Linked DNA regions of Homo sapiens. The protein of the gene in region 1 interacts with the protein of each later gene in a biochemical or structural test. Each region holds a gene or a part of one and is shown on either strand. Other genes may lie near its edges. The genes, in order: HRK and BCL2.

Region 1 (3,829 bases):
CTGGAATTACAGGCAAGAGCCACCACACCCGGCCAAGGTTTTTTTTTAATTAAAAATTGGGGCCTCTTAGGAGGGAATCCAAGAGTCCTAATTCTTTGCTGACATCAGAAAAAGGGAATAAGCCTCTTGCCCCATCTAATGCTGCACTGGGGTTTACGGTTTTCAGCTTTCACCTTCCATACCCAAAGCGGCACAACATCACTGCAGCCCACGGAGGCAGGACCTTGTGGGTTCAAGTTCTCCCTCTCTGCCCGCCTCCCCCCTCACACGGTGGATGAAAAATGGAAACAGGGACATTTTTTCAAAGGTATTTCATGAATCACTTCAGCCACGAGTTTTGGCTGTGAGTTAGCATCTGAGAAAATTCTTTACGAGCCAAGTTTAAGGGAACACATCCCAAGGGTGGGGCAGTGGCTCACAGGGGTTGATGGACTTGATGTTTTAAAAATAGTTTTAAATTGCACGATTACTACTGCTGCTTGGAAAAAAGAAAGAAAGAAACCCTATATATATAAAATATAGCCCATAGCAGCCTCAAACTCCTGGGCTTATGCAATCCTCTCTCCTCAGTCTCCTGAAGTGCTGGGATTACAGGCGTGAGCCATAGCACCTGGCCTCAATTCCTACAACTTTCTGATACAGTTCCCTGCTCATCACGCTTCCCTGTTTGTGCCATGCTTATCACTGTCCTTGGTCTTGTTTGGGCCCTTCCCCCACCTAAGCCACGCTTCCTTTTTCCAAATATGGAAAAAATATGTGTGTGTGTTCTAGGTCCTGATCAAATCCTGGGTCCGCGCTGAAGCTTCCCTGGTAATTGTAACCCCATTCTGACTTCTAGGCTATTGGTTCACCTCCAGATATTGGTCATTTACAGTACTGGTCTCTGGCATGGCATATCCTTCCAGTAAGCCTGGAGGCAAATTTAAAGCAGGCACCTGGCCTTATCTGGTGCGGATAACCATGCTTAGCACGATGTCCACACACTCAATAGCATAATAGGTACTTAATAAGTGTTCCTGTCTCTCCTTCCATCCCACCTGTGCTTAAGGCAGCATAATTATTTTAGGCTAATGCTGCAGGGTTACACTGACTTTCATTCTGTAGGTTTATGGCTAGACACCAACAGAGATGTTTAGGGGTTACAAAAGCTGGTTTCATAAACTAAATTTAGAATGTATTTATCAATTGAGTTGATTGATGACTAATTCCATATTCTATGAAAATATATGGTGGCTACATAACAATGCAGAGTTCCTACTGTGTTTGTGCCCTCGTGAGATAGAAGGGGAATTGGCCTGGTGTGGTGGCGCACACCTGTAATCCTAGCACTTTGGGAGGCCAATGCGGGACGATTGCTTGAGGCCAGGAGTTTGAGACCAGCCTAGGCAACATAGAAAGACCCTGTCTCTAAAAGAAAAAATAAAAATAATAAATTAGCCAGATGTGGTGGTGCATGCCGATAGTCCCAGCTAGAGGCTGAGGTGGGAGGATCGCTTGAGCTCAGGAGGTCGAGGGTGCAGTGAGCTATGATGGCGCCACTGCACTCCTGCCTGGGTGGCAGAGCGAGACCCAGTTTCTTTAAAAAAAAAAAAAAAAGCAAAAGGTTTGAAGTCACTGATTTGGATCCTTGTGACTGTCAGCTGACATAGACTATGGGGTCCATGTGTTTATGACTCATATCTTTCATGCAGTCAGATGTATCCATTAGGGCCCGAGTAAGAGGCAGAAAGTGTTTCCAAACTCAGTAATCAGAGGAGAATTTAGGACAGCTTCAACAGCAAAGGCGTGGGCAGGGTTTGGGAAACCAGCGAGAGTGAATGCAGTACCCAGGCTTGGCCATAGAGGGGAGCTATTCCCACCCTGGCCTGAAGGTGCCAGGGTAAGGAATGGGACCTGGAGTCTCCAGGAGGGTGTCACTGTACCAGAGTCCAGACAGCGGCTGTGGCCAACCTCTGACCAGTGGGAGGGGAGCTGGGGAACAAACACCTGATCTTACTTTCCCATTAGTGCCTCCTGTTGGCCAAACCCAGAAGGAAGCCAGAAGTCAAGGGTACCAGCTGCTACAGTTCATGCAAGTCAACATCTCAGACTTTTTCAAACCCAGAAGCCATAAAGTGATCTCCCTTCCACTTTCTCTCCTATATCACTTGGTGTGTATTACCCACATGCTCGTTCATATGCCACCTGCTTTAGAATAACGGGTGATACGTTCTTATCTCCCCCGCTAACTTATAGCCACCTTATCTGTCCTTTTAAGTCTGGGCACGGTGGCTCATGCCTGTAATCACAGCACTTTGGGAGGCTGAGGTGGGTGGATCACTTGAAGATAGGAGTTCAAGACCAGTCTGGCCAACATGGCAAAACTCAGTCTCTACTAAAAATACAAAAATTTAGCCGGGCATGATGGCATGCACCTGTAGTCCCAGCTACTTGGGAGGCTGAGGCAGGAGGCAGAGGTTGCTTGAACCCAGGAGGCAGAGGTTGCAGTGAGCTGAGATCGTACCACTGCACTCCAGCCTGGGCAACAGAACGAGACCTTGTCTCAAAAACAAACAAACAAACAAACAAACAAACAAACAAACAAAAAACCCTACCTTTTTAAGGTGTACAAGTCAATGATGAGGAGTATACATAGAATTTTGCAGCCATCTTCACAGTCAACTTTGGAAAATTTTCGTTTCCCTGAAAGAAACCCCATGCGCATGAGTATCACTCCCCAATTCCTCCTATCCGCCCCGGCCCTAGGCAACCACCATTCTCCTTTCTGTCCCAGAAGATCTGCCTGTTGTGGACATTTCATATAAATGGAATCACACAATATGTGTCCTTTTGTGTCTGGCTTCTTTGACTTAGCATGATGCCTTCAAGGTTCATCCATCTTCACGTATCAATACTTCATTCCTTTTTGATGGCTGACTAATAGTCCATTGTATGGAAAGACCACATTTTGTTTATTCATCAGTTGATGGACATTTGGGTTGTTTCCGTATTTTGCTATTATGGATAATTCTGCCATGAGCATTTGTGCACACATTTTGTGCATTCTGTGGTGGATGCTCCTGGGTATGGGCTGTTTTTTCTGCCCTGCCTAGGATGCCTCATTTTCTTATCCTGGTTAGTTTCCTGGCACTCTTCAATAGTCAGCAGGGGCCTGCCACTCTCTCTGAGGAGTCTGCTTTGTCTCCCTTATGAGCTGCCTCCCCTGGGCTCCTATAGACCACGTTTCCCCAGACTGCATGTGCTCTTTACATGGGACTGTCATTATCCACTTCTTCCCATCTCCCTGTTGGTTCTGAGCCCCTCAAGGGGCAAGAATTACGTCATTGAACCTGTAGCCCCTAGTATGGCACTTGGCATACTTGGGAATAAGTGAATGGATGAATGAACGAACAAACAAACAAAAGAGAACAGAGACTGCCCTACAACTCTCTCTTGAATCTGGGTCTATGAAATGAATCGAGGAAGGTCCTGTTCTGAATTTGGAGAAGCAAAAAGTTCATGTGTCTCTAGATTCTTCTTTTTAAAAACATCTCTGAAGATGCCTATGTAAATATCTAGGTCTAAAAGCAGAGAGGGGAGTGTGTGTGCACGCACAAATGTCTATTTGGGGAAGGCTGCTACATAGACAGAGATTCTGGTAAGGGGAAGAGTGCCAAGACTAGCTTTTGAGGCATCCTTCCTCCAAAACCAGAGCTTTGCATCCAGTAGCTCTCCCCTCCCTCCTCCCCCTCCCGACATCCGGGGCTGAGCGTGCAGAGGCCCACTGCACTGACGTCACCCCCAGCAGCTGTCTGCACTGACCAAAATACCAATCTTTATTTCTGCAGGT
Region 2 (2,791 bases), on another chromosome or scaffold:
CCATCGGGTCGTCTCCGAAGATTTGGCAGGGGCAGAAAACTCTGGCAGGCTTAAGATTTGGAATAAAGTCACAGAATTAAGGAAGCACCTCAATTTAGTTCAAACAAGACGCCAACATTCTCTCCACAGCTCACTTACCTCTCTGTGTTCAGATGTGGCCTTCCATTTATATGTGATCTTTGTTTTATTAGTAAATGCTTATCATCTAAAGATGTAGCTCTGGCCCAGTGGGAAAAATTAGGAAGTGATTATAAATCGAGAGGAGTTATAATAATCAAGATTAAATGTAAATAATCAGGGCAATCCCAACACATGTCTAGCTTTCACCTCCAGGATCTATTGAGTGAACAGAATTGCAAATAGTCTCTATTTGTAATTGAACTTATCCTAAAACAAATAGTTTATAAATGTGAACTTAAACTCTAATTAATTCCAACTGTACTTTTAAGGCAGTGGCTGTTTTTAGACTTTCTTATCACTTATAGTTAGTAATGTACACCTACTCTATCAGAGAAAAACAGGAAAGGCTCGAAATACAAGCCATTCTAAGGAAATTAGGGAGTCAGTTGAAATTCTATTCTGATCTTATTCTGTGGTGTCTTTTGCAGCCCAGACAAATGTGGTTACACACTTTTTAAGAAATACAATTCTACATTGTCAAGCTTATGAAGGTTCCAATCAGATCTTTATTGTTATTCAATTTGGATCTTTCAGGGATTTTTTTTTTAAATTATTATGGGACAAAGGACATTTGTTGGAGGGGTGGGAGGGAGGAAGAATTTTTAAATGTAAAACATTCCCAAGTTTGGATCAGGGAGTTGGAAGTTTTCAGAATAACCAGAACTAAGGGTATGAAGGACCTGTATTGGGGTCGATGTGATGCCTCTGCGAAGAACCTTGTGTGACAAATGAGAAACATTTTGAAGTTTGTGGTACGACCTTTAGATTCCAGAGACATCAGCATGGCTCAAAGTGCAGCTCCGTTTGGCAGTGCAATGGTATAAATTTCAAGCTGGATATGTCTAATGGGTATTTAAACAATAAATGTGCAGTTTTAACTAACAGGATATTTAATGACAACCTTCTGGTTGGTAGGGACATCTGTTTCTAAATGTTTATTATGTACAATACAGAAAAAAATTTTATAAAATTAAGCAATGTGAAACTGAATTGGAGAGTGATAATACAAGTCCTTTAGTCTTACCCAGTGAATCATTCTGTTCCATGTCTTTGGACAACCATGACCTTGGACAATCATGAAATATGCATCTCACTGGATGCAAAGAAAATCAGATGGAGCATGAATGGTACTGTACCGGTTCATCTGGACTGCCCCAGAAAAATAACTTCAAGCAAACATCCTATCAACAACAAGGTTGTTCTGCATACCAAGCTGAGCACAGAAGATGGGAACACTGGTGGAGGATGGAAAGGCTCGCTCAATCAAGAAAATTCTGAGACTATTAATAAATAAGACTGTAGTGTAGATACTGAGTAAATCCATGCACCTAAACCTTTTGGAAAATCTGCCGTGGGCCCTCCAGATAGCTCATTTCATTAAGTTTTTCCCTCCAAGGTAGAATTTGCAAGAGTGACAGTGGATTGCATTTCTTTTGGGGAAGCTTTCTTTTGGTGGTTTTGTTTATTATACCTTCTTAAGTTTTCAACCAAGGTTTGCTTTTGTTTTGAGTTACTGGGGTTATTTTTGTTTTAAATAAAAATAAGTGTACAATAAGTGTTTTTGTATTGAAAGCTTTTGTTATCAAGATTTTCATACTTTTACCTTCCATGGCTCTTTTTAAGATTGATACTTTTAAGAGGTGGCTGATATTCTGCAACACTGTACACATAAAAAATACGGTAAGGATACTTTACATGGTTAAGGTAAAGTAAGTCTCCAGTTGGCCACCATTAGCTATAATGGCACTTTGTTTGTGTTGTTGGAAAAAGTCACATTGCCATTAAACTTTCCTTGTCTGTCTAGTTAATATTGTGAAGAAAAATAAAGTACAGTGTGAGATACTGGTTGTGCCTGGAATTGTTTATAATGTGTTAACATGATTTTGCCCTGCCATTCATCATCATTACACAAGACTTTGAAAAGCCTTCTTAACAAGCCAGTAAAATCACCAGGACCCTACTCTAATGAAGCCCTCAGGGACCAGGCTAAGGGATTGCCTTACAGGTGAAACCACCTTAGAAGGAGACTCTTGTTTCTTGGTAATAACCCTCCTGGTTAGGTACAAGATAGACCAGTCTTGAGTTCTACTCCCTGGGAGAGCTACTGTTGCTGTTGAGTGTGTTCTTCCATATAGACCAGAGATCCCAGCCTCTGCATTTTATAAGATGAAATGTGTATGAAAAAGAGGGAAATAAGCTGAAAGTTCTGTTTTGAAGTCAACATTTTTAGATGGAACCAAAGCAGCTACTTGCTTTGGAGCAGGTGAACCCTAAATGGCAAGGGATCTGATGTTTCCCACTGGGTTCAGGTCCTGATACCCTAATCCTCAACCCTTCAAGTCACATCACTTAGACTCAATTAAAAGGACTCTGATAGTAGCATTCATCTGTTGAGCACCTGCTGGATACAACACTGTATGCATACTACCTTTTGCTCTCAAACCTTTCAAGGTAGGTATTGGCCTCTTGTATTTTGTAGGAGATAACTGAGACTCAAGACGTTGAAACTATATGCCCAAGTTCTCAATAATCATAAATTACAGAGGCAGTATTTGAGCCCTGGTGTGGCTGACTCCAAGGTCCATACTCCATCCTTTGAATCGGTAGCCTC

Evidence for each region.
Region 2: the proteins of HRK (region 1) and BCL2 interact in a test that uses a peptide from one of them, tested with the Homo sapiens proteins (one study listed by BioGRID).

The regions. Positions count from the first base shown.
Region 1 is NC_000012.12:116,861,465-116,865,293, reverse strand, and holds part of HRK (activator of apoptosis harakiri), read left to right. Parts: intron 1-3,827; 3' UTR 3,828-3,829. UniProt on the Homo sapiens protein: Promotes apoptosis.
Region 2 is NC_000018.10:63,122,580-63,125,370, reverse strand, and holds the end of BCL2 (apoptosis regulator Bcl-2), read left to right. Parts: 3' UTR 1-2,025; downstream 2,026-2,791. UniProt on the Homo sapiens protein: Suppresses apoptosis in a variety of cell systems including factor-dependent lymphohematopoietic and neural cells. Regulates cell death by controlling the mitochondrial membrane permeability. Appears to function in a feedback loop system with caspases.